Linked DNA regions of Homo sapiens. The protein of the gene in region 7 interacts with the protein of the main gene of each other region in a pairwise test. Each region holds a gene or a part of one and is shown on either strand. Other genes may lie near its edges. The genes, in order: TSKU, ZMYM2, ZMYM5, HEYL, NID2, GOLGB1 and SKIL.

Region 1 (3,500 bases), on a different chromosome or scaffold from region 7:
GAAAGCCTCACAGAGGAGGTGGCTTTTTGAATGAAATGTGTGAGAGTTTGCTGGTAGACAAAGAAGGGTATCTTTGCATCAGAGGGAACAACGTGTGCAAAAAGGCAGGTGGCTCTAGAAGAGTCACAGGCCTCTAGACTAGAAAGCTGTCTCTGTGGGATGGGTTTTAAAGAGGGAGCTGTAGTAGGGTCCCAGACTTCTGTTGGGAAGTGCGTTCTGGTGCCAGCATGGCTGGCAGTTGGAGTCAGGCCAGGAGCGAGGCTGTTGCAGCAGGTCTCTTGAGCCTGACCTGGACAGGGGGAGGTGACTGCCCAGCTTAGGGATGAGGGAAAGGGAAGACAGTGACCCCAACTGCCCAGGGGGATCTGCGAATTTGATGCTGAGCCCTCATTCTGTCACAGGCAACACAGCAGCTTTTGCCTGCTTTGGTCTCTGAGACCTTTCCAGCTCACCCTTCCCAGTCTCCTGGGAGTGCCTTGTCAGCATCTTGTAGCCACACTGGGATCCTGGATGGTATGTGGAGAGAGGATCCAAGGCCTCTGGGATGAATTGTGGATTCTTCTCCATCTTCAGCCCCTGCCTTCCCTCAGGATTTGCTGGTGTCACAGCACCTTTTTCTTCCCTGGTCCCTGAAATCACTCACTGGGGACAGGAACCAACATTCAGTGAATACCAACATGTGCCAGGCCAGGTCTGGGTCTTCACTTTGCCTCATGTAATCATCACAGTGACCCGTTAGGACCAGCACTGGGATTATCACCATATTACAGACGAGGACTCAGAGGGGTGAGGGCACGAGCAAGCCTCAGAGCAGTGAAGGCCCTGTTGGGTTGGAACCCAGACTGCCTGGCTACAAAACCCTTGCCCTCTGCCCCATAGCGCCTCCTCATGTGTCCATGTACGCTGCCTCAGGTTGATGGGAACTTGAAAATCTTCAAGAAGAAGACATATTGAAAGGAGAAAATCTTACTGGGAGCCTTGCCCATCTCCCTGTAGATTATCCTCCTTGGGTAAGTTGCTAGGCTTACAGGTCCCTGCGATCATGTCATGGAGGAGGCCAGGTACTGGATGTCAGAATACCTGGGTCCTGGGTCCAGCCCCTGTCCTCTCTGGCTGTGTGACTCTGGACAGATCACAGAACCTCTCTGGACTTCTTAACACAGCTGTAAAGTAGATATGACGCCATCTAACCTGCTGATCCTGCAGGGTGACTGAACAGATGGTAGTTGAGGAAGCATGGGAGAGGTTGAGAGGTGTCCTTTGGTGAGGTAGCGGTATTCTAGATGCTTGGTGCATCTTCACGTGGTGTCTGCTCTGTACCAGGCTCAGTGCTCAGCTTCAAGGGCATAAAAAGGAACCTAATCGCATCCCTGCCCACAGTAGGATAGACAGTTAAACATGTAAGTACAGTTCAGCATGACCAGGTCTAAGCACATGTGCTCATTTGTAAGCTGAGGCAGAGTGGATTTGGAGCTAAGACATCTGGGGTTAAGTCCGGGGTCCTCTCCTTCCCAGCTGAGTAACATCCATTTCTGTGTCTGCAAAATAGGGACAGTATCCCCAGGGTCAAGGCTCTGGTGAGGCAGAAGTGAGATGCTGGTGGAGAGCACATGGTGGGCTGCTGTGTTTGTCCAGATGTGCTGCATTGGTGGGTCTGTTGCAAGAGCTGGCCCTCAGGGCTCCGGGAGTCTGGCCTTGAAATTCTTTCTGCCTTGCGTTTCCAGAGCTGACAAAGTGGTTGGAGGGCAGGACGTTTCTGAACCATCCACCTGGGGATTTCCTCGGCATCAGCTTGAGTGAACTCATGACTGAGGGGAGCAGGGTGGGAGGCAGCTCTGTGTTGAGGAACAGCTGATCGAGACAAAGGCCGGTCTCGGGGGTGCTGGGGCCCTGTACCAGTGGGGCCCTGTGCCAACAGTGCCCTGTGGAAGTTGTCGAGGGCGGTGGGGGGAGCTGGAAAACTTTACAGACCAGAGATGCTGTAGTGCAGCACCAGGGTCAGGCAGCTGGGGCCAGGTAGGTTCAAGCTGGAACCCAACACCCAGAGAGCTGTCCTTATCAGCAGACACCAGGGAAGTGACTGAAGAATGTCATCACAGCCAGTCTCGGACCTGCTGTGCTCCTGGCGCCACACTGGGAACTTGGGTGGGGAGGAACATGAAGGATCACATGGTGACTGCCTTCAGAAGGCTTAGCAAATCACCGTCATTGTCTACCACACATTGAGTATTTGTGTAGCAGATAGTGAGTGGAATGCCTGCCATTCTGTCATTTAATCCTTTCAACAAACCTGTGTTCTTAGCCCTGTTGAGGACCCTCGGAGCGGGTCCCAAGACTTACCCAAGGCTGGTAGGTACAGAGCTAGGTTCACACCTGGTCTGGGTCTTGCGGTTGACCCGTTCATCCTGCTCTTCCTCCACACACCCTCTAGGCCTGGCTCTGATCCCAGGTGGGGGAAAGAACACACAGGTAAAGTAGGCAGGGCACCGCCCCAAGCTGCTTACACATCAAGTAGGAAAACAGCAGGTAACTCACGGCAGAGAATTTACTGAAGGAGGCCTGTGGGTAGCCTGTGGGGTGAGAGGCCAGGAGGGAGGGGTGGCCCGAGGGCCTGAGTGGACAGAACAGGCTTTGTTTTGCTGGGAGCAGGCCAGGGGCAGGCGGGATGGATGCATGCAGTTCTGGCAGTCACATGAGGCATCAGGTCCCAGGTCCTGGGCCCTGCTCTGCCATTCCTTGCTGTCACTGCCCCTCTCTGGGCCCCAGTTGCCCATGATCCCCAAGGGGCCTTCCAGCTCCCAAGCCCTGGAATTCTCCAAGTTTGGAGATGTATTAGCAGAGGCTGAGAGTTGTTCAAAGTCCATCAAGGGAAGGCTGTTCCCACTTTGGCTGTCAAGGAGGGTTCAAATCCAGATGAGGGGCTGGGGACAGGTGGGAGGGGAGAAGAAGGTGGTGACAACTTACAGGTGCCTCGTGCATGGGAGAACTTGATTTCTGTAGGTAAAAAGCAGAACCCAAGAGGTTTCTGATAAGGAGAGTGATGTGGCCAAAGCTGTTTTAGAGGTGTCTCATAGCAGTGTGTGCGGTGTCACCTGGGGAGACCTGCCTGGAGCCTGTTGGGGCCGTACCATTTACTCTTTGTCCTTGCAGGCCATCAGCAAACTTAGAGTCACTGTGGACCTGGCCCTGTGGGCCCAACAATGCATGATTCATGGCCCCTGCACTGGAAGGCCTTACGGTATATCCCCCAAATCACAGATGGATGTGGTTTCTAAGCCCTTGTCCTCCTGTTCTTGTGTTTTATAATCTGGTCAATCAGTGGATATCTTGTATCTGCAGGTCAAGATTTGGAAAAAAATGTTGAATCTTGACTGAAAGATCCCTTTCTCCCTCAGCCTTCTTTGGTGGCTACCAGTCTTCATTTCTCTTTTTCCTGGGGGTAGAGTACGGGTCCCAGAGGGAGGCAGTGTGAATACTGTTACACAGATAAGAAAACCAAG
Region 2 (3,500 bases), on a different chromosome or scaffold from region 7:
AATCAAGGGACTGAAAAGTCATTCAACTTATAAAACAAGTTAGAACATTATAATTTTTTATGCCAAAACATTCAGATAATTATTGCTTAGATATACAATAATGACACCTGTGAAATTTTCCAAATCAGAATTGAGAAAATTTCTTTTGTGTGCTGTAACATTTATCCTATGGGAGAGAGGAGTATCTAAGGATGTGTAGCAATTGCTAGCCACTATGGAAAATAGCTCAATTTTCCCCTGAACAATTTCTAAACACTAATGCTACCATGGTCATTCAGGAATCAGAAGAAAACATGATTACACACATGCTAGAAAAGAGCCAAATGATTTCAAGATAATTTGCAGCTAGCACTTTGTTCAGTCTTTAGAAAGTAGATTTTAAGTTTCCTTATTCTAAAAGAAAAGGTCTGAATGGATAAATTGCTATGCAGAAGCACAAAGTTGTTTTTTTTTTTAATGCAATCTTCTATAAGAAGTAATTTCAAAAGCCAAACAATCTAACATTAAATGGGATTTCCTCTGAGACTGACTTTCTCTATTAGTTTCTTTGTTTGTTCCTCAATCATTTGCAATATCAGAATTACTACACTGGTAATCTTCATTATAAAATGTGATCCTATCTTATTTAACATAGCTTGACTTTCTGTAACTATTTCAGGAGTGGAATTTCTAAAAACAATTTTATCCAATGTAAACAGGCACAAGAATTCTGATAAAATTGCTAAGTTTTAGAGTACTACACAGCTAACATTGCAGCATGATCTGTATCCTTAAGAGGGAAAAAAAGAAATAAAAATCAAACCTCTATAAATGAAGAGGATTTCAGATACTTATGGCTGGCATAGAAGAAAACAGAATTTTATACTTTCACCAGACATTTTTACAAAGGAAATGTCTTGATGATCTTGTTTTCAACTTACAATCATTTATATATATATATATATATATATATATACACACACACATACATACATATATATACATATATATATTTGTTTTTTATTGATTGGGTGATGCAGAAAGCCACAAATGAGAAAAGGACACTAAGGTTTTAATAAGGGGAACAAAAAATTGTTTTCACCAGCATAGATTCACATTACAGTACACCAATATTGACAGCATTCTCTTGTCTATTTTTGGTACAGAAGATGGTATCTCTCTACATAACCTTGTAAGGCTTCAGTAACTAAAATGTAAAACCAAACAAAACAAAACCCCAAAACAAAACAAAAACCCCAGCCTATTAGTTTACAGTTTATTTTAAAAATTCCGAAAGACACTGCAAGTTCTAAACTTTTAGTAGTGCTACCCATACACAACCATCTGGTTAAGAACCCAGTAAAAGAGCCCCCTTCCAAGGAAGCTTTGCAACAGTAGAGTTGTGCAATATGGATGTTTCTTACTACAAGAAAAAAATTATACATGGCACATTCTCATTCATATTCTGTAATGTAAAAAGTTACAAACATACCTAATCAAATAAATAATAATAAAAAAAGAATTTGAATGTATTTGTTAAGTATCCTAAAACCACTACATAGAATAATGGCAACTTTCACTCACAGATTATTTACATGGTAATACCCAGCGTGGGTACACTGCTACAAAACTCAAAACAGAAGGAGTAAACTTGAAATGTTTTCCATAATAAAGATCTAGCAGCATGACTATCTAATGCTGTTTTATCCCGATTGCTTCTGCAACGTTCCTTTTTAGTCTGTGTCTTCATCCAGTTCATAATTGTCTTTATCATAAATATCTTTTACTAGAAGAACCCGTACAAGCATATTTTCCAAGGTGTTTCGGTCCAGTGAAGTAGACGTATACCAGACAGGGCTATCTGTAGAACTAGAGCATTCTGGTTGCAAATAAAAAACATCCATCCTCTGATTAAGATTCTGTGGACTTTGGAGGCGGGAGGAAAAAGAGAAAAAGTCAATTTCACAAAATTTCCACAACTTTTTCTTTTTTCAAGAATAATTCAGACCCCATTAATCACGTTATATGACCAGACCCCCTATGCCCCACTGTCTCCATTATTCTGTCATTAAAATATTCTCAAAGTTATTTTCTGAGATAGAGATTATTTCCCACAATTTTAATTCTACTTCACTAAATCCAAGACACTATCAATAGACACACCACTCATTATTTTAATGCTACCATTAAGCAAGTGAAACACTGCCAATTATGATTTCAAGATGCAACAATTTAAACTGTGCATCCCAGTTTCAGAAATAGTGAAATGTGAAAATGTCTTAGAATTGATGAAATATGTATGGCAGCACATAAAATTAAAAAATTCTTACAGCACTACATAATAGAAACTCAATTTTTAAAATACCAACAAGGTAATAGTGAGATAGGAATTTCCTACTAACAAATAGTTACTACCAACTGAAGACCCTGACACTACTGCAGCCAAATAGGACCACCCTAAACCATGGTGAGAAATACAGGCTGAGCATCCCTAATTCAAAAATCCAAAATCTGAAACTCTTTGCCAAAATGACACCAAAAGTGGAAAGTTCCACACCTGACCTCATGTGAGGAGTTCGCGCCCAAAACACAGGCACATAACACACAGGTTATTCAGCAACCCCAAGGGGAAAATAAAATCACCTTCAGGCTATGCATAAATAAAATTATCTTCAGGCTACATGTATAAGGTGTATATGAAATATAAATGAATTTCATGTTTAGAGTTGGGTCCCAGCCCTAAGACATCTTATAATGTATATGCAAATATTCCAAAATCCGAAAAAATCTGAAATCTAAAACACTTCTGGTCAGAAGCATTTTGGATAAGGCGCATTCAACTTGTACTAATATCATCCTATACATGATACTATTGTTTTTACAAGTCCTTGAGGGCCATCCTGGGGACCTGTGATTTATAAATTTGTTTAAACAGGGAAGTACATTTTGAATTCATGCTGACCTTCTGAAAATTAGAGAGTGCTTACTTAAAACAACAGGCAAGCATAAAATAATCTATGGTCTCTAAACGTTTTATTGGCTTAAACTTTTTAAAATGCCTGTTGGTCTGAGATTGAGGGGAAAAAAAATTCCAGAACATGATTCCATTTTTCATACCTGCTTGACTGTTTTCTCTTAAATGTAAATACTTCACTTACATTTCCACCTATCTATACTACCTTTGAGCATACCTTTACACCGGGCATTGGCAAACTACAGCCAGCCACCTGCTTATGTGAAGTTTTATTATAACACAGCCACATGCCATGAATTTATATATAGTATATGGCTGCTTTCTAGTCACAAGAGAACCGATTAGTTACAATAGTGATTCCATAGGCCCAAAAGCCTAAAATATTTACCATCTGACCGTTTAAGAAAAAGTTTGTGTCCCTTGCTTTGCTGTCATTGGAATTGCTGTAATTTAAAAGACAATGACAGGCGCAATGGCTCATGCCTGTAATTCCAGCACTTTGGGAGGCTGAGGCACGAGGATGGCTTGAGGTCAGGAGTTCAAGACC
Region 3 (3,500 bases), on a different chromosome or scaffold from region 7:
TCCAAATAACCAATGCACAATGTTATTAATACAAAGGTTAAAAATCCATTCAAAATCAATAGATTTTAAACTAATAGACCAGTCTGTACCAAATACAGTCCCCCCCTTTTTTTTAAGGAAAAAAAAAACTAGCAGGGTGTTATGGCATGCACTTGTAGTCTCAGCTACTTAGGAGGCTGAGGTGGGAGGATAACTTGAGCCCAGAAGTTTGAGGCTGCAGTGAGCTATGATCATGGCACTGCACTCTAGTCTGGGAAACAGAGTGGGATGCTGACACATAAAAAAATTAAAAATAAACAGTATGAAAAAAATTTTTTTGAGACAGTCTCGCTCTGCTGCCCAGGCTGGAGTGCAATGGCATGATCTCAACTCACTGCAACCTAGGCCTCCCAGGTTCAAGTGATTCTTGTGTCTCAGCCTCCCCAGTAGCTAGGACTACAGGCATGCACAACCACACCCAGCTAATTTTTTGCATTTTTAATAGAGATGGGGTTTTGTCATGTTGGCCAGGCTGGTCTCGAACTCCCAGCCTCAAGTGATCCGCCTGCCTTGGCCTCAAAAAGTGCTGGGATTATAGGCATGAGCCACTGCGCCTGGTGATGAAAACTTAATTATACGGTTACAAATCCCACATTGTAACAACCTCGAAAACTACTAATTGTCAAGTTTTGGTGCTGCATCAAAAGAAAACTATCCACATCTAAAAAGACGTGGAAAATAGTCCTCCCTTCTCCAACCACCTATCTATGTGAGGCCAGATTTTCTTCTTATACTTCAAGCAAAACAAAATACTACAACAGACTCAATACAGAAATACATATGAGAAGCCAGATATACCTGTCTTCTATTAAGCCAGATTTTAAAGAGATTTGCAAAAATGTAAGACAATGTTACTTTTCACTAAATTTCTTTGAAAATAGTTATTTTTCATTACAAATGTTATTTATGTTATATAATGGGTAATTATTGTGAAATGAATAGTTTTAATTTTTCTTTTTTTTTTTTTTCTGTGAGATGGAGTCTCACTCTGTCGCCCATGCTGGAGTGCAGTGGCGTGATCTTGGCTCACTGCAACCTCCCGGGTTCAGGTCATTCTCCTGCCTCAGCCTCCCGAGTAGCTGGGACTACAGGCACCTGCCACCATGCCCGGCTAATTTTTTTTTTTTTTTTTTTTTTTTGTATTTTTAGTAGAGACGGGTTTCACTGTGTTAGCCAGAATGGTCTCGATCTCCTGACCTCGTGATCCGCCCACCTCGGCCTCCCAAAGTGCTGGGATTACAGGCGTGAGCCACTGCGCCCGGACTAGTTTTAATTTTTCTTAAGATTTTATCTTATTTTTTGAAACAAAAAAATTTCTGTCGCCCAGGCTGGAGTGCAGTGGCATGATCTCAGCTCACTGCAACCTCAGCATCCTGAGATCAAGCAATTCTCATGCCTCAGCCTCCCAAGTAGCTGTGACTGCAGGAGCATGCCACCATACCCAGCTAATTTTTTTTTGTTGTTTTTTGTATTTTTGTAAGAGACGGGGTTTCACCATGTTGGCCAGGCTGGTCTTGAACTCCTGACCTCAGGTGATCCGACAGCCTTGGCCTCTGAAAATGCTAGGATTACAGGTGAGAGCCACCACACCCAGGTAATTATTATTTTTTGAGACCGGGTCTCACTCTATTACCCAGGATGGAGTGTAGTGTTGTGATCATGGCTCACTGTAGCCTCAAACTCCTCGGCTCAAGTGATCCTCCTGCCTCAGCCTACGAAAAGTGCTGCAATTACAGATGTGAGCTACTACGTCCATCCATTATTATTATTTTTTAAAGACATTAGGTCTTGCTATGTTGCCCAGACTGGACTCAAACTCCTGGGCTCAGGTGACCCTCCCACCTCAGCCTCTTTGTTTTTTTTTGAGACAAGTCTCACTTTGTCGCCCAGGCTGGAGTGCAGTGGAGTGATCTGGGCTCACTGCAACCTCTGCCTCCCAGGTTCAAGTGATTTTCCTGCCTCAGCCTCCTGAGTAACTGGGGCTACAGGTACATGCCACCATGCCTGGCTACTTTTTAATTTTTTTAGTAGAGATGGGGTTTCACCACGTTGGCCAGGGTGGTCTCAAAATCCTGACTTCAAGTGATCCACCTGCCTTGGCCTCCCAAAGTGCTGGGATTACAGGTGTAAGCCACCATGCCCAGCCCCACCTCAGCCTCTTGAATAGCTGGGACTACAGGTGCACGCCACTATACCTGGCTAAAGCTTTAATTTTTAATATATCTAATAATAGAAATAAAAGAAACCTTTGGGGTCTTCATTTTAAGAGTGAATCTGAGACCAAAAAAATTGAGAATAAGTACCCTATGGAAAAAATAAAAAATGTAAACATACGTATTTATTGTAGCTTCAAAACAATGAAAAAGCATGTAAATGATGAAAAAAATACATAGGGGAATGAGTACTTCAGACAAATATTTTGTGGTTACTAAAACTTATATATACATATTTTTAGAGACAGAGTCCCACTCTGTTGCCTAGGCTGGAGTGCAGCGGTAGGATTAAAGCGCAATGTGACCCCAAACTCCAGGTCTCAACTGACCCATCGCAGCTTCCTTAAGTGCTGAGTTTACAGGTGCACATCATGGCGCCTGGCTAATTTTTTTTTACTTTTTATAGAGATGAGGTCTTCGCTACGTTACTGAGGCTGGGTTCAAACTCCTGGCCTCAAGTGATCCTTCTTCCTTGGCCTCACAAAGCGATGACATTACAGGGGTGTGCCACTGCACCCAGCCTATATTTTTATGATGACATAAAATATTAGCATTTAGATTAAGTAAATCAGCAGGATACAAAACAATATAAAAAGTGCTCTAAATTATATTTTTAAAAACCAAAGATTGAAAGCAAACAAACCAAATTCTTCACAGTGGTCACATTATTTCTAGTTACTGGGGTAAGGAGACATATTTTCTGATTTCTATGATTTTTTTCTAAATATTCTATAATAATCACATAGTATTTCGTAACCAGAAGATAAAATTAATTTTAAAAATAAGGAAAAAAGTTGGCCGGGCGCGGTGGCTCAGGCCTGTAATCCCAGCACTTTGGGAGGCTGAGGCGGGTGAATCACTTGAGGTCAGGAGTTTGAGACCAGCCTGGCCAACATAGTGAAACCCCATCTCTACTAAGAATACAAAAAATTAGCTAGGCGTGATGGCACACGCCTGCAATCCCAGCTACTCGGAAGGCTGAGGCCCGGGGATCACTTGAACCCAGGAGGCAGAGGTTGCAGTGAGCCGAGATCGTGCCACTGCATTCCAGCCTGGGTGACAGAGACTCTGTCTCAAAAAAAAAAAAGGGAAAAAGCACTATTTTCCTGAAGGCAACAACATGATTAGGTTCTCAGGTTCTCGTTACTTTTCAGTACTTTCCTAAAATTCAACAGGCTATAAACACTAAAATGGTCAAAAAAACAATACCAACTCTCCCCCAAACCCCTCACAAGTCACATAAAAGCA
Region 4 (3,354 bases), on a different chromosome or scaffold from region 7:
CTCTGTGTATTTGGTGATTTCAAAATTGGGAAACCTTGAAAGCTCCACAGGCCTTGGCCACAAAGACCTAAGTTCCAGAGACCTAACTTACTGCTACAGAAGAGGACAGTAGCATTTTAAGTGGCCCATTCTGGTGCTTCTGAAGCCTCAGTGTATACCATTGTCACCTTGGGGCAGGCAGAATCAGGAGTCATCCCCCAGAGATTCTGAGGCAGTAGGTCTAGATTGAAGTTTAGGAGTTTGCAAGTTTAACAAGCCACCCAATTATCCTGGTGCAGGTGGTCCATTTGGGAACTTCTGCCAAAAAAAATGCATTGCTAAGAGTGGAGACTTCCATCTCTAATGAACCAATGGGGGAGATTCAAATTACATTTATGGTTATCCAGTGAAAAGAAAAGTAGTGACTAATATGTGGATATCATTTGACAGTTTTAAAATGCTTTCACTTGTGTTGTTTCATTTGATTCTCACAAGAACCTGCAAGATGGGGGTTAGTGTTACCACCATTTTCTGACTGTGAACTAATGGGAAGACAGAACTGTGGTTCACGGTATAGGCTTTAGATTTGAATCGGGCTCTACTGGTTACTAGCCGTATGACCTTAGACAAATGATTTAACCTCTCCCCTCCTCAGTTTCCTCATCTCTAAAATGGGAATAATTAGAGGGTTTTATGAGGATTAAATTAGATAACTTGATGAAATGCTTAGTAAGAATTCAGCAAATGTTAGAAAAAAACAGCGGGCCGGGCGCGGTGGCTCACGCCTGTAGTCCCAGCACTTTAGGAGGCCGAAACAGGCGGATCACAAGGTCAGGAGATCGAGACCATCCTGGCTAACACGGTGAAACCCCATCTCTACTAAAAATACAAAAAAAGAAATCAGCCGGGTGTGGTGGTGGGCGCCTGTAGTCCCAGCTACTCGGGAGGCTGAGGCAGGAGAATGGCATGAACCCAGAAGGCGGAGCTTTCAGTGAGTCGAGATCGCACCACTGCACTCTAGCCTGGGCGACAGAGCGAGACTCCGTCTCAAAAATAAAAGAAAAAGAAAAAGAAAAGAACAGCAAAGGCCAGGCGCAGTGGCTCACACCTGTAATCCCAACACTTTGGGAGGCCGAGGTGGGCGGATCACCTGAGGTCAGGAGTTCGAGACCAACCTGGCCAACATGGTGAAACCCTGTCTCTACTAAAAATACAAAAATTAGTCGCTGTGATGGCTGTTGCCTGTAATCCCAGCTACTTTGGAGGCTAAGGCAGGAGAATCTCTTGAACCTGGGAGGCGGAGATTTCAGTGAGCCAAGATCGTGCCACTGCACTCCAGCCTGGGGGACAGAGCGAGACTCCATCTCAAAAAAAATAAAAAAAGAAAAAAAGAACAGCAAACGCAGAAAGGTGAAGGGATTTGCTTGAACTTACATGGCTAAGTGTATAGCAGATTTGGTTCTCACCCACAAGTTGACCTGACTCCAAACATAGTCTCCAGCTGAGCTGTTCCTCTGTGGGGGCCATGAACCAAGGACTAGATATTTGCTGCCATCGTCATGAGACCAGTGCTGGCTGGGGTTGTTGTGTCTTTGCCCAGAAGGTGGTCAAGAGAGGAACAGGTATGGAGAGGCAGTGAGGATGTGAATATTTGTACAGGAAGTTCACCTGGTTATCCATCAAAGAGAGGGTCCCTGGCCGATAACAGCAGCTGAGGATCACAGTGGGGTCTTGCTTTCCAGATTGCCTTTTGAGCCAAGGGACAAACTCAGATGCCAACAAGGCCAAGCCAGTAATATAAGTGATAGCTAACTTTTCATTTATTCAGCATTTTCTGTGCACTATTTTAATTTCACCCTCATAACTCTATACGGTAGGCACTGCTATATCCCCATTTTACAGCTAAGGAAATTGAGGCACAGAGAGATAAAGAGACTTGTCCACAATCAGGCAGCTAGTTAAGTAGCAGAGCCAGGATTTGAACCCAGCTCTCCTGGCTTCCGACGACCTCACACTTCACTGCTACACTACGCTGCCTTCTCCAAGGGGCCTCCTCACTCTGATGGCTGCTGCCGCCACCTCCCTTCCTGGGCATCTGCCCCTCTCAGCAGGCAGAGTTGTTCTACACCTCCAAGTGCATAACCTTTCATATCTGTCAAGTATCTACTTCAATGAAGTTATCTTGGCCACAAAGTTTTTTCTTTGCATTAATCATGAATTGTGATGAAAGCAATATTTTACATTTTATAATGCTTCATAGTTTAGTGAATTCATTGATCATTATAACCCATCATCCTCCACCCCAGGAAGGGATTTTTGTTCTCACTTTGCAGATGGGGAGACAGGCTCAGAGAGGCAGGATGACATGGCCACGGCTGCCCAGGGAGTGAGTGGAGGAGGCAGGTCCAGAACTCAGACAGTCAGACCCAGGCTCCATGCTTCTCCCCACACCTGGCATGACCTTCATCACGCCTCCCTTTGCAGGATTCTTTGATGCCCGAGCCCTGGCAGTTGACTTCCGGAGCATTGGTTTTCGGGAGTGCCTCACTGAGGTCATCAGGTACCTGGGGGTCCTTGAAGGGCCCAGCAGCCGTGCAGACCCCGTCCGGATTCGCCTTCTCTCCCACCTCAACAGCTACGCAGCCGAGATGGAGCCTTCGCCCACGCCCACTGGCCCTTTGGCCTTCCCTGCCTGGCCCTGGTCTTTCTTCCATAGCTGTCCAGGGCTGCCAGCCCTGAGCAACCAGCTCGCCATCCTGGGAAGAGTGCCCAGCCCTGTCCTCCCCGGTGTCTCCTCTCCTGCTTACCCCATCCCAGCCCTCCGAACCGCTCCCCTTCGCAGAGCCACAGGCATCATCCTGCCAGCCCGGAGGAATGTGCTGCCCAGTCGAGGGGCATCTTCCACCCGGAGGGCCCGCCCCCTAGAGAGGCCAGCGACCCCTGTGCCTGTCGCCCCCAGCAGCAGGGCTGCCAGGAGCAGCCACATCGCTCCCCTCCTGCAGTCTTCCTCCCCAACACCCCCTGGTCCTACAGGGTCGGCTGCTTACGTGGCTGTTCCCACCCCCAACTCATCCTCCCCAGGGCCAGCTGGGAGGCCAGCGGGAGCCATGCTCTACCACTCCTGGGTCTCTGAAATCACTGAAATCGGGGCTTTCTGAGCTGCCCCTTCACCACCCCGCCCCAAGGAATAAGGAAGGTTCTTTTACCAGGAGCCCAAAAAAGGGCACTGCCTTTTCTGCTTTGCTTCATGGACTGGCTCATATGTGAAGGCACGTTCTCCAGCCATCAGAGGCCCCCTCCTCCTCCAACCCATCTCTCCTTCTCACTGTTATCCCAGCTTATCCACCCAGCTCTCCTGGAGCTGTTCTGGTCTCA
Region 5 (3,500 bases), on a different chromosome or scaffold from region 7:
AATGGAATCAGATGATTTTCCACTGTGTCGATGCCATTCGAGACAGCCACCCTTTTTTTTCCTCCATTTTTGAGAAAACCCGCTCCCCAAAATGGGGTGCCTTGCATTAGGGAGGCTGCTGGCTCAGGAAGCATCAAACATCCCCTGGGGAAGGCTCCATCCACTCCTCTCCCAGCATCACACACTCCTCAAGTTTTCATCTATGGAGTCAGGGAAGGTTAGGAAAGAAGTGGGTCAAAGGGACAGAACCAAAGTGAAAGGGAAGGGCTGCAACGGTGAGACAGTCATTAACTGACTTCCACTTGGAGTCCCCAACAAACCGCAGAGATCACACCTTGTGACTAGTTGTCCTGTCACTTTGATTTCCAGGATTTCCATGGAGATGTTATGACATACAACCCTGGGGACTTAGGGTAAGAGTCGGTCCATTTTCCCTTGGATCACCATACAGCCTCCATGTGCTGACAACTCTAAAGTTCCCTTTCCATATTATCTGAAACTCCATGAACGAACCAGAGAGCACAGCCTTGGTCAGTGACAGGTGACTCCCAGCAAGAGAGAGCCCTGGTCCTATGGTGGTGGCATCGGGCCCATGCCGATGGGCTGCAGCTCAGAAACCCTCCAGGACTTCCCTGCACCAGTCCACCTCACTGCAACAGGGCCTGTGAGGTGGCTCCCACTGGGAAAGCCACGCAGCCCTGCCCCCTACAGGAGAAATCCACTTTACATGCAGAGACAGCAGGGTCTTAGCTGCATCCTTCTGAAGCCTGGTGCCATTGAGGGGTAAGTAGCCAATCTGCTGGCCCTGAGTATAGAGCAGGAAGGTGCCCACAGATGGAGGGGTCACATCTGGCCGGGGCGTGGGCCGGACCATGGGTGGAGCGACGGTGGGTATACCTGTGGGAGAGAGGGTGGGAGAGCAGGAAGGGGAACAAGGGCAGGCAGGGAGATGGGAAGAAAAGTTACTTTACCACATACCAGAGCCTCCAAAAATATCAAAAGTTCTTCGCCCTACGCAGATGTGCTCCAGATGTTCTTCAAAAGAAATTCTAATTTCTAGGGTTTTTTTAAGGATCAATTATGTAAATCTGCCATTTACTAGGGAAGAAGACAGCAAAACACTTCCCTCAGAACAAAGCAGAACAGATTTTTTTTTCAAGAGAAAAAAAAAACAGAGCCAGCATTGTGTCAGCTTCCTTTTAGGACTCCAGAGTGACACGTGTCCCCTGTCACCCTGGGCTGGGGAGGGGGAGTAACTGCCTGCTGAACCGAGTTGCAGATGTTCCAATTATGGAAGCTGCTAATGACAAAAACCAGACACCAAACGCAAATTGGGATCTTGTGTGGACCAGATTATAAATCAACATAGCACATAGTGACTTCTTTCATTAGACCTGGTGACCCCACATGTCCCCCCACTTCACCACAGCAGGCACCATCCCTAGCAAAGGCCTTAGATACAGCTGAGGGGAGCGGGGGCGGCCAGGTGCTTACACGCAGGGGTGGTGCCTGGCTGGGAGCGGGTGCCCTGCACCTCTCTGCCATCTTTGTCCACACACCAGCAGAAGTCGCTCTTTCCGTGGCACTGCAGGGGGATGAAGTGGCCCAGGTCATCGCACTGGGGCACGTACTGGTCATCCCGGGGGGTGCCACCGTAGTGCTCCAGCAGGTTTTCCCTCCAGCGCTCACAGATGGTCGGGGGCCTCTGGGTGGGCTCTGAGCAGATGGGGAAGAGGGAAGAAGAAAAACCTTTGATTGTGAGTCAAGGACAGAATGCAAAATGTAGCTCAAGACCCCATGCCTGGCCTCCTGGCCTTCCTTCTCCTACTGTCCAGGTCTCAGCCAAGCCCGTGGACACCAAACTTGGGAAGCAAATGTGTTCTAAGTACTTCTCCACCATGGGAATCAGAAATAGATCATGTGATGCTTCTTTCTTGCCAGGAGGGTCTGTCATCAAGGCCCAGCCACATCAAGAAAGAACAAGAGGAGGTAAGATCAGCAGTGCAGCTCACTCAGCCTGGGAAGGGGCATGATCTCCTTCTGGCCAGGAGAGGCCCACAAGGCCCATCCTGCCTGTACCTCGGGCGCCTCTGCTGACAGAGCACTTGTGCAGGTGATCCTTGGGGACTCAGTAGCCGAGGTGATGCTTAAAGCCAATTTGTATTCATTCCCCACTTGCTTCAAGCTTCAAGCTCGAAGCTGCTGAGGAGAGGGCCATCTTGCGACTGGCCAGTGTGTGTCTTAGAAAGTATTACTGAAAGCCCAGCGCCACGGTGCCCTCTGTCTACCCACTGGAAAACTACATGGAGTAAAGGTAAAACTGAGTGGAATTAGTAGTAAAGCATAGCAGAGGTGGTGGCAAACAGCTTAAAAATGGTTCTTCCACAGCCCAGTTTCCAGAATTGCTTTAGCCACCCTGCGCCTGGGATTATCTCAAAGCTGAATCTTTTCCTGCAGGCTCTAGCTTCCTGCCGTGTTGCCCTTTCCCCCCCTTTCTCCAGCATCCTCTCCTCTTGTCCCCTCCCTCACAGCTCACTCCATGGTTGAAGTCCTGCTGGCTTTGGTTGCAAAGCAGTTTCCTCCCAGGCTGCTTCCACAGTGCCATTGAGGCTTTGTCCAAAATACAGGTTGTTCTGAGAAGACTCTGCTGCAGAAGGTTATTGAGATAACTTGTTCATTTATGTTAGGACTACCCAAAGGAACTTAAACAAGAGGAGGTGCTTCTCCTTCCTTTTTAATTCCTGCAACTTAAAGCACATGGTCTGCAGAATCACATAGCCAATAACCCTACTTGCTACCACCATTTAGATGTATAATAGAAATCAGAAACTAATAGAAACTGAGCCCCTGCCTTCACCATCAAACCAGCTGCTCCCCTGGTCTTTCCCATATGAGTAAATGGCACCTCCATTTTTCCACTGCTCAGACCTAATTATCCTTGACCCTCCTTTCTCTCACCATCCACATTTGATATGTCAAAAACTCTTTTTAGGGGTAACTTCAGAATCCACTTAGAATATCTTTACTTCTCACTACTGCACCCCCTCACCCTGGTCAAAAAGCCTCATCCTCTCCCTGCAATTTCTGCAACAGCCTTCCCACTGGTTTTCCTGCTTCCACCCTTCTATGCCCTCACTCTCTCCAAAACCAGTGTAAATTCAATTAGCAGCAGCCAGAATGGCCCATTTTAAACATAAAGGCATTTCATGTCACTCCGTTCAAAACCCTCCAGTGACTCTAAAGAACAAAGCTGGGAGCATTATGATCAGGTTCCAGCACCTACAATTCCTCTTGGAACACAAAAGACTGCGAATGAAGTTGTCAGAGCTCAAACCCAACTAGCTCTAGCTCAACTGCACGACTCACCAGAATTGGGGGAAGCGAATGCCGTTAAGTTGTCACTGTAGCTCATGACCCATGGGAGACAAAGCTCTTTTTAAGACCCCGTGGAGAAGGTAAGACTCTGACTTCTTCAGCCAAATGTGTCTCAAGGAACACAG
Region 6 (3,500 bases), about 49 Mb from region 7:
AAGGGCTGCCTGCCTAGTCCAGGTACTGCCATTGTAATGTTAGAATCTCACATGTACTCTAAAGAGCAGGTGGAACTCAGTGGCCCTCCAGTTTAAAGGCAGCCAGTACCATCTTCCTCATCAATACCTACAGACTTCTCATCCTTCCTCAGCATAGCCTACATTGACAGACTGACCTCCATAGTAACAGACCATGCTGTTCCAGATCAAAGCTGCTTCTGAAAAGCTTATCACATGGAGGAATAGACACAGAAGGTGTATTTTTTAGTCAGCCTGGCTCTCAGGAGGGAAGCAGGAAAGAAGGAGCTAGGCTGTGCATGCTCAGTTCTCTTTCTAGACTCACAAATTGGATTAAGGTGTTTCTTCTCTCCCGGGGAAAAGAATGTGTCCTGCAGAGAGCCCAAGAATATTAAACTAATAGATATCCTTTCAGAAGGAGAAAACACAAAGAGTAGAGGCAAGAGTTTCATCCTCTCTTCCCTATTGAAAAAGTTCATCCCTATAGGCAAATGCTTGATCAAACGTGCTGTGTTACATGCAGCTCCTTTGTTTGTTTGACATAACCATTGAGTGAGTAATGGCAGCTTCTTCATTAAATGGAGAAGTTCCAGTATTAAATAAGCAAATCAGCAAAAACTGAGCCAGAAGGCAGTGGAGACTGCCAATTCAATTTAATTTTTTTTAGTTCAATTTAATTTTTAAAACCCCACAGAAATCTTCTTTGGATGCTTTTGCCTATTAGCCTTTAATAAAAGAAAAAAATGTAATGAGTTTCTCCAAGTCAGGTGTGGTGTGGTGGAAAAAAGAACGTGAGGCTTGAAAGACAAAGTTGGGTATTGAATTCTGGCTCTGCCGCTTACTGGCTGTGCCGCCATGGGCAAGTAATTTAACCTCTGTAAGCCTTAGCACTTTGAAGATAATAAGACCAACCTCAGAACCTGAGGATTAAATGTATGTAAAGCACCCAGCCTAGAGCCTGATACATAGTGAGTAGGCAGTCAATTCCTGATAGTTATTGTCACATTTTGCTGCTGCTGAAGGAAACGTATCTGCTGGTACCCCCCTTGCATGGGTTTGGGTTTATGGGAGCAGCTTTTGCTGCAAGTCTCCTCCTGTGCTGCATTGTGTGGCAGGATGACTGGGAAGACTGGGCCTGATCAGCCTCTCATGCTATGAACCAATGCTATGCCTCTTTTTTTTCTCAACTCAGGTTAGAGCACAGTGAATGGGACTCTTCCCGGACTCCTATCATTGGCTCCTGTGGCACTCAGGAGCAGGCACTGTTAATAGATCTTACAAGCAACAGTTGTCGAAGGGTAAGAGGAAGAAGGATAAAGAGAGGGTGTTTTATTATCTGACAGGGCTGGCTATACTGGGGGCAAGGAGCTGAGGAGAAGGAATGTGGAAGTCCAGCCACTGAGCAGCGAATGAGTCTAAGGCTGGAAGGGCGTGGAAGATTAGAACCTGGTGGAATTTGCCAAGTTGTTGACTCTGAGGCAACTTTCCTCTCAGAATACCCCTTTCTACAGTGGTTGGGTCAGCTTTGCTTAAGTGCAAGACTAGTAGGAGGGAAAGCAACATAGCCCTATAGGGTGAAAACTCTCTGACTTTCACATTTTTCTTTCAGACCCGGAGTGGCGTTGGATGGAAGCGAGTCCTGCGTTCACTCTGTCATTCACGGACCCGAGTGCCACTTCTAGCAGCCATCTACTTTCTAATGATTCATGTCCTGCTCATTCTGTGTTTTACGGGCCATCTATAGACTTAGTTGTTACTCTTTGGACCACTCCCCTCAAAACTTGGAATTCTCTCACCTCTAACATCAGAACATCAATTCCAGTGGAACAGTCTTCCCATTTACAGGTCTTCTCTCCAACTCTTCACGGAAAGTGCCTGCAAAAACAGAGGTGGATACGAGGACAGGTTGGAGCTGCAGGGACTGGCGAGTCTGCTTTCTTCTACTGCCCTGAGCCTGAACGCTTCTGCTTAATCTGAGAATCACATTTGGTTTGTTGAGCCTAATATTTGTTGAGATTTTGCAGGACCCTGATCTTTTGTGGTCCTGTAAAAGATACTGAGGAATGTCTTTCAGCCAAGCCAAGAGGATGGTTTCAATAAACCTAATAATCTGAAGTTCAGTATCATTTTGATTGATAACTTTCTTTGCCTTGTTTGCCTGTATTTTCTCCTGTTTCAGGGGGAAGGTGGCTCTGCCATAAACAGAGTTCAGGGAAATGAACATGTCACCTCATAGGACATCTGATTTAGGTCTCTTGCAGAATAGGGTGGTGAAAGCTGAAGGAACTCCCTAGGGGTTTTAGCTGTTAGATCACATGGGAGGACAGCATCTTCTTCCCTGCCAATTTCAGATATAATTGGAGGGAGAATTTCAGGTCTTAGACTATAAGGATAGAATCCCTTTGCTTTTGCCCTTGATCACATGTATACTAAGGTATTAAGTGGCCCAAGTCTTTCCTTTCACCAAAGGGCAGGGAGAAGTGTCTATGGACAGCAGGGTTCCAATTCTTGTCATTCCAGGAATATCTGAATATTCCTGGAATGTGGACCCTGAGACAGTGCTCAGGGGCCACTGGGAGCCAATATTAGGCATTGACTCTCAGCCAGGAGTCTGACTGGTCTAACACCACACTGCAACTCCTGACCTCTTGAAGTACTAAGCTACTTTGCTGTTAGTGACAGTTATTACAGTTTCTCAGCCCCATTGTCTCTGCCCTCTGTGGCAATGGAAGGAGAATATAGAGAAGACAAAATTAAATATAGATAGACCTGAGAAGGACAGCCAGGATAGAATTCCATTTGTGCCTATTCCCTGCCTCCCCTCCCCTCCCCCATCCTACCAGTTGGTTATTTTCTCATTGCATACGTGATGTGTTCACTGCCTAGCCTCTCCCTAAAGAAGAGAGAAGACAAGTGGGCTGACTGATCTGCTCTAAATCTACTGTGGTGATTAAATCTTGGTTACAACATCCTGGGAAGTTTCCTGAACAACTGTAAAATAATAAAATTATTTTCAGAATGAAGAGTTTGTGTGTATGTGTGTGTACGTGTGAGTGAATGGATATGTGCACAGGTGTTTCGGTACCTGTGTTTGCATGCTGGGGGGTGGAAGGTGGGTAAGGGAAGTAGGGAAAGGAGGTAGCCAGGAATGGTTATAGGGGTAGAAAGCTCTACATATTCAGGCTTTCTTCTCACTGGCCAATATCAGTGACAGCTGCATGCATTTTTCCAGCCTTAGCTGCTAGACCCCAGGTGATGAATGCAGTGAGGAAATTCTATCCTAATACTGAACCAAATAAGCTGGGCCTTAGGGCATGAAATTGATGCAGGTCCATGCATGGTCCTGGGAGAACTCTTGTCTGGCACATAGTGAAAACATTAGGCCCCTAGGGATCCCTCTGGGTGGGAATGGGAGAAGAGAAGCTTAATAGCATGTAGCAGGTTAGATAGGCATTATTATGTTTTGTTTTGTTTTGTTGGGT
Region 7 (3,500 bases):
TCCCAGCTACTAGGGAGGGTGAGGTGGGAGGATCACTTGAGCCCAAAGGTTGAGGCTGCAGTGACCGCAATCTCACCACTGCACTTCAGCCTAGGCGATAAAGACTCTGTCACAAAAAAAGAAAAAAAAAGGAGGAAAGAAAAACAAGGATCTCCTGAAGACTGACAGCAAATAAAAGGTAGGAAAGGAAAAAAATTCGGACAAAAATAACTTGCAGTCTGAGGCCAGGTAGCCTGTATCTATCTCAGTCTCCTGAGCTATCACCACGCTAGAAAAGTATAGCAACTGAGATTAAAATAAATCACCCAGAGTTTTGAAGGGTAGCATTTTTAAAGGTAAAAGCTCCAATTATCTGAAAATTTAGCTCAAACAAAAAGCCTGTTTGAAAATGCTCAATAAATGTGTTCATTAGATATTTAATTTTAGAAAGATAATCTCTGAATACTTACCTAAACGGCTACATAATTCTCTACTTGTTTTTAAATCCATTTTCTCCTGTTCCTCAAGTGAGACATCTGGATAAGACACTGTTTTTTGAAGTTTACCACTACTGTGAGCCTTCTCTGACTGTCTTGATATGGACTTACTTGCCTCTGTCTTTGTGAGCTCTTTAGACTGGGATACAGCAGAAGTAAGTGACACATTTGGGGCAACCACTTTATCACACATGTATAAGTAGTAGCTGAAAACAAGTAAAAGCAAAACAAGACATATATTACATATTACAATTAAGTAAAAATCAAATATGTAACATGCATTTCTGTGGTTAAACTTTTTTTTTTCTAACCAAAACAGACAATATTACAACTCAGAAAATAAAGGTCACAGTAAAGAATTCTTAGGAAAAAAATCAACACTTTAGGCATTACAAACAAAATTATAAGGGATTTTTTGTTAGTTTGCAAGTAACCCAGGCTGGAGCGTAGTGGTATGATCATGGCTCACTGTAACCTCTAACTCCTGGGTTCAAGCAATCTTCCTGCCTCAGCATCCCAGGTAGCTGGGACCACACATACCCATTTTTTTTTAGAGATAGGGTCTTGCTATGCTGCCAAGTTGGTCTTGAACTCCTGGGCTCAAGTGATACCCTCCCACCTCCAACTCCCAAAGCACTAGGATTACAGGCATAAGCAACCATAACCAGCTTGCAAGTAATTTCGTGTTTTTTTTTTTTTTTGGCAAGTAATTTCTAAGCACTAAAAAGATACACAGAAGGAAAATCACAGGCTCTTCTCCTTCCCTCAAAACCACCTGAGAATTAAAAGCATTAAGGACTTTATACAGCTGTGTAACAACTCTGAGCAGGTAAGTTTTACTCCAGAAAAAGAATAATCTATAACTACTTTGGAGGACTTTATCTTGCCCACCACCCTTCCAAAGCAGGGAATCTTTGCTTTGGTGAGGCTGCTTCAGTGGCAGACTGCAAGGCTATGTCCTGACTCACAGGAGGCTCAGTGAGGAGCTCCCAGGGCTCTTCTTATATACCTCAGAGAGAGAGCTCTGAATGTCGCCCAGCTACTGGGCAGTTCTTGTATCAAACCCCACTGAGCAATCTTCTTGAAATACTTCACTACTTCCTACTCATTTGATAAAATGGCAACAATAAATTATGCAAAACTAAGATAAAAGAGATTACCAATTTTGACCAAAACTCACATAAAATTGCCCAGTAGACTCATGTGAGAAGCTCATGGGACAAACAAATTTCAGCTAGATATTTAAGTACCATATTTGTAACTATATTCTGAGTAACACTTAGCAAAAAGATGTAACCATTTAAGACTTGACACTCTATCCCCTGAACTCCAGACAATCTCCTCTTACATTTCATTTTCTTTGTACTAAGACATCTATATTGTTCCCCTTTGTTAATAACATCCATTTTTGAGCCAAAATCTCAGTTTTCTGACAGGACAAGAAAATTGACAGGTTTAATAGGGCTCAAAAGACTTACTGCAAATACAACAGGTAAAGTAGTGATTGTACAAATGTAAATAAGACTCAGTCCCCTTATCACCATACTTGGAGGGAATACAGATTTACACTAGTAGAAAAAAATCTAGGGCTCAACAACAAAAAACTTACAATCTAGGGTGAACATTTATTGAAACAGTAAAACTCTGATTTTGAGAAGTACGGTTATTAAGAAAGCTCTTAGTTTCAAAAGAATTTCTTTTTAAAATATCAAAGTTGCAGGCCGGGTGCAGTGACTCATACCTGTAATCCCAGCACTTTGGGAGGCTGATGGCAGGTGGGTCACTTGAGGTCAGGAGTTCGAGACCAGCCTGGCCAACATGGTGAAACCTCGTCTCTTCTAAAAATACAAAAATTAGCTGGGCGTAGCAGCGGATGCCTGTAATCCCAGCTACTCAGGAGGCTGAGGCAGGAGAAATGCTTGAACCCGGGAGGCGGAGGTTGCAGTGAGCCGAGATCATACCATTGCACTCCAGCCTGGGCAACAGAGCGAGACTCCATCTCAAAAAAAAAAAAAAAAAATTGAAGTTGCGGCTCGGGGCGGTGGCTCACACCTGTAATCCTAGCAGCACTTTGGGAGGCCAAGGCTGGCAGATCACCTGAGGTTCAAAACCAGCCTGGCCAACATGGTGAAACCCCATCTCTACTAAAAATACAAAAAAATTAGCCAGGAGTGACAGCTGGCGCTCAGGCTCAGCTACAGGATGCCATGACAAGAGAACTGCTTGAACCTGGGAGGCAGAGGTTGCAGTGAGCCAAGATCCTGCCACTGCACTCCAGTCTGGGTAACACAGTGAGACTTTGTCTCAAAAAAAAAAAAAAAAAAATCAAAGTTGCACACCAAATTCTTGAAGAGTTTGTTTACCTCTTGAAGAAAAGTAAGAAATTAAAGGAGAACTTCCATTTTTTACTTGAGGGCAAAAAGAAAATGACCTATTTCTAGAAAACACATAGAAACACATAGTAAAGGTTATTTCAAATATTCAGTGCAATTTACAATTCATTTCATTTCAGATTCTTTCTTTGAAATTTTTTCTAATAAGAGTAACAATACAATTCACCTACCATTTCCCTATAATGATAAATAGAAACAAAAAATACATTAAATACCAATGTACTTATTTAAAAATAATTTTGAATTTTCTTTTTTTCTTTTTTTTTGAGACAGTTTTGCTCTGTCGCCTAGGCTGGAGTGCAATGACGCGATCTCGGCTCACTGCAAGCTCTGCCTCCCAGGTTCAAGCAATTCTCCTGCCTCAGCCTCCCGAGTAGCTGGGACTACAGGTGCCCGCCACCAGGCCCGGCTAATTTTTTTGCATTTTTAGTAGAGACAGGGTTTCACTGTGTTAGCCAGGATGGTCTCGATCTCCTGACCTCATGATCCACCCACCTCGGCCTCCCAAAGTGCTGGGATTACAGGCATGAGCCACCGCGCCCAGCCTAATTTTGAATTTTCAAAGATAATCTATGATTAACAAGAAAGCCTGAAAATAAAGAAATAAATTCGTGGTCAGGCACAGTGGCTC

What was found.
Region 1: the proteins of SKIL (region 7) and TSKU interact in a two-hybrid assay, tested with the Homo sapiens proteins (one large-scale study listed by BioGRID and IntAct).
Region 2: the proteins of SKIL (region 7) and ZMYM2 interact in a two-hybrid assay, tested with the Homo sapiens proteins (one large-scale study listed by BioGRID and IntAct).
Region 3: the proteins of SKIL (region 7) and ZMYM5 interact in a two-hybrid assay, tested with the Homo sapiens proteins (one large-scale study listed by IntAct).
Region 4: the proteins of SKIL (region 7) and HEYL interact in a two-hybrid assay, tested with the Homo sapiens proteins (one large-scale study listed by BioGRID and IntAct).
Region 5: the proteins of SKIL (region 7) and NID2 interact in a two-hybrid assay, tested with the Homo sapiens proteins (one large-scale study listed by BioGRID and IntAct).
Region 6: the proteins of SKIL (region 7) and GOLGB1 interact in a two-hybrid assay, tested with the Homo sapiens proteins (one large-scale study listed by BioGRID and IntAct).

The regions. Positions count from the first base shown.
Region 1 is NC_000011.10:76,786,356-76,789,855, forward strand, and holds part of TSKU (tsukushi isoform b precursor), read left to right. Parts: intron 1-3,500. UniProt on the Homo sapiens protein: Contributes to various developmental events and other processes such as wound healing and cholesterol homeostasis through its interactions with multiple signaling pathways.
Region 2 is NC_000013.11:20,084,227-20,087,726, reverse strand, and holds part of ZMYM2 (zinc finger MYM-type protein 2), read right to left. Parts: intron 1,906-3,500; coding exon 1,713-1,905; 3' UTR 1-1,712. UniProt on the Homo sapiens protein: Involved in the negative regulation of transcription.
Region 3 is NC_000013.11:19,846,650-19,850,149, forward strand, and holds part of ZMYM5 (zinc finger MYM-type protein 5), read right to left. Parts: intron 1-3,500. UniProt on the Homo sapiens protein: Functions as a transcriptional regulator.
Region 4 is NC_000001.11:39,626,290-39,629,643, reverse strand, and holds part of HEYL (hairy/enhancer-of-split related with YRPW motif-like protein), read left to right. Parts: intron 1-2,463; coding exon 2,464-3,137; 3' UTR 3,138-3,354. UniProt on the Homo sapiens protein: Downstream effector of Notch signaling which may be required for cardiovascular development. Transcriptional repressor which binds preferentially to the canonical E box sequence 5'-CACGTG-3'.
Region 5 is NC_000014.9:52,013,560-52,017,059, forward strand, and holds part of NID2 (nidogen-2 precursor), read right to left. Parts: intron 1,717-3,500; coding exon 1,495-1,716; intron 898-1,494; coding exon 728-897; intron 1-727.
Region 6 is NC_000003.12:121,662,742-121,666,241, reverse strand, and holds the end of GOLGB1 (golgin subfamily B member 1), read left to right. Parts: intron 1-1,210; coding exon 1,211-1,316; intron 1,317-1,627; coding exon 1,628-1,762; 3' UTR 1,763-3,041; downstream 3,042-3,500. UniProt on the Homo sapiens protein: May participate in forming intercisternal cross-bridges of the Golgi complex.
Region 7 is NC_000003.12:170,381,715-170,385,214, reverse strand, and holds part of SKIL (ski-like protein), read right to left. Parts: intron 683-3,500; coding exon 450-682; intron 1-449. UniProt on the Homo sapiens protein: May have regulatory role in cell division or differentiation in response to extracellular signals.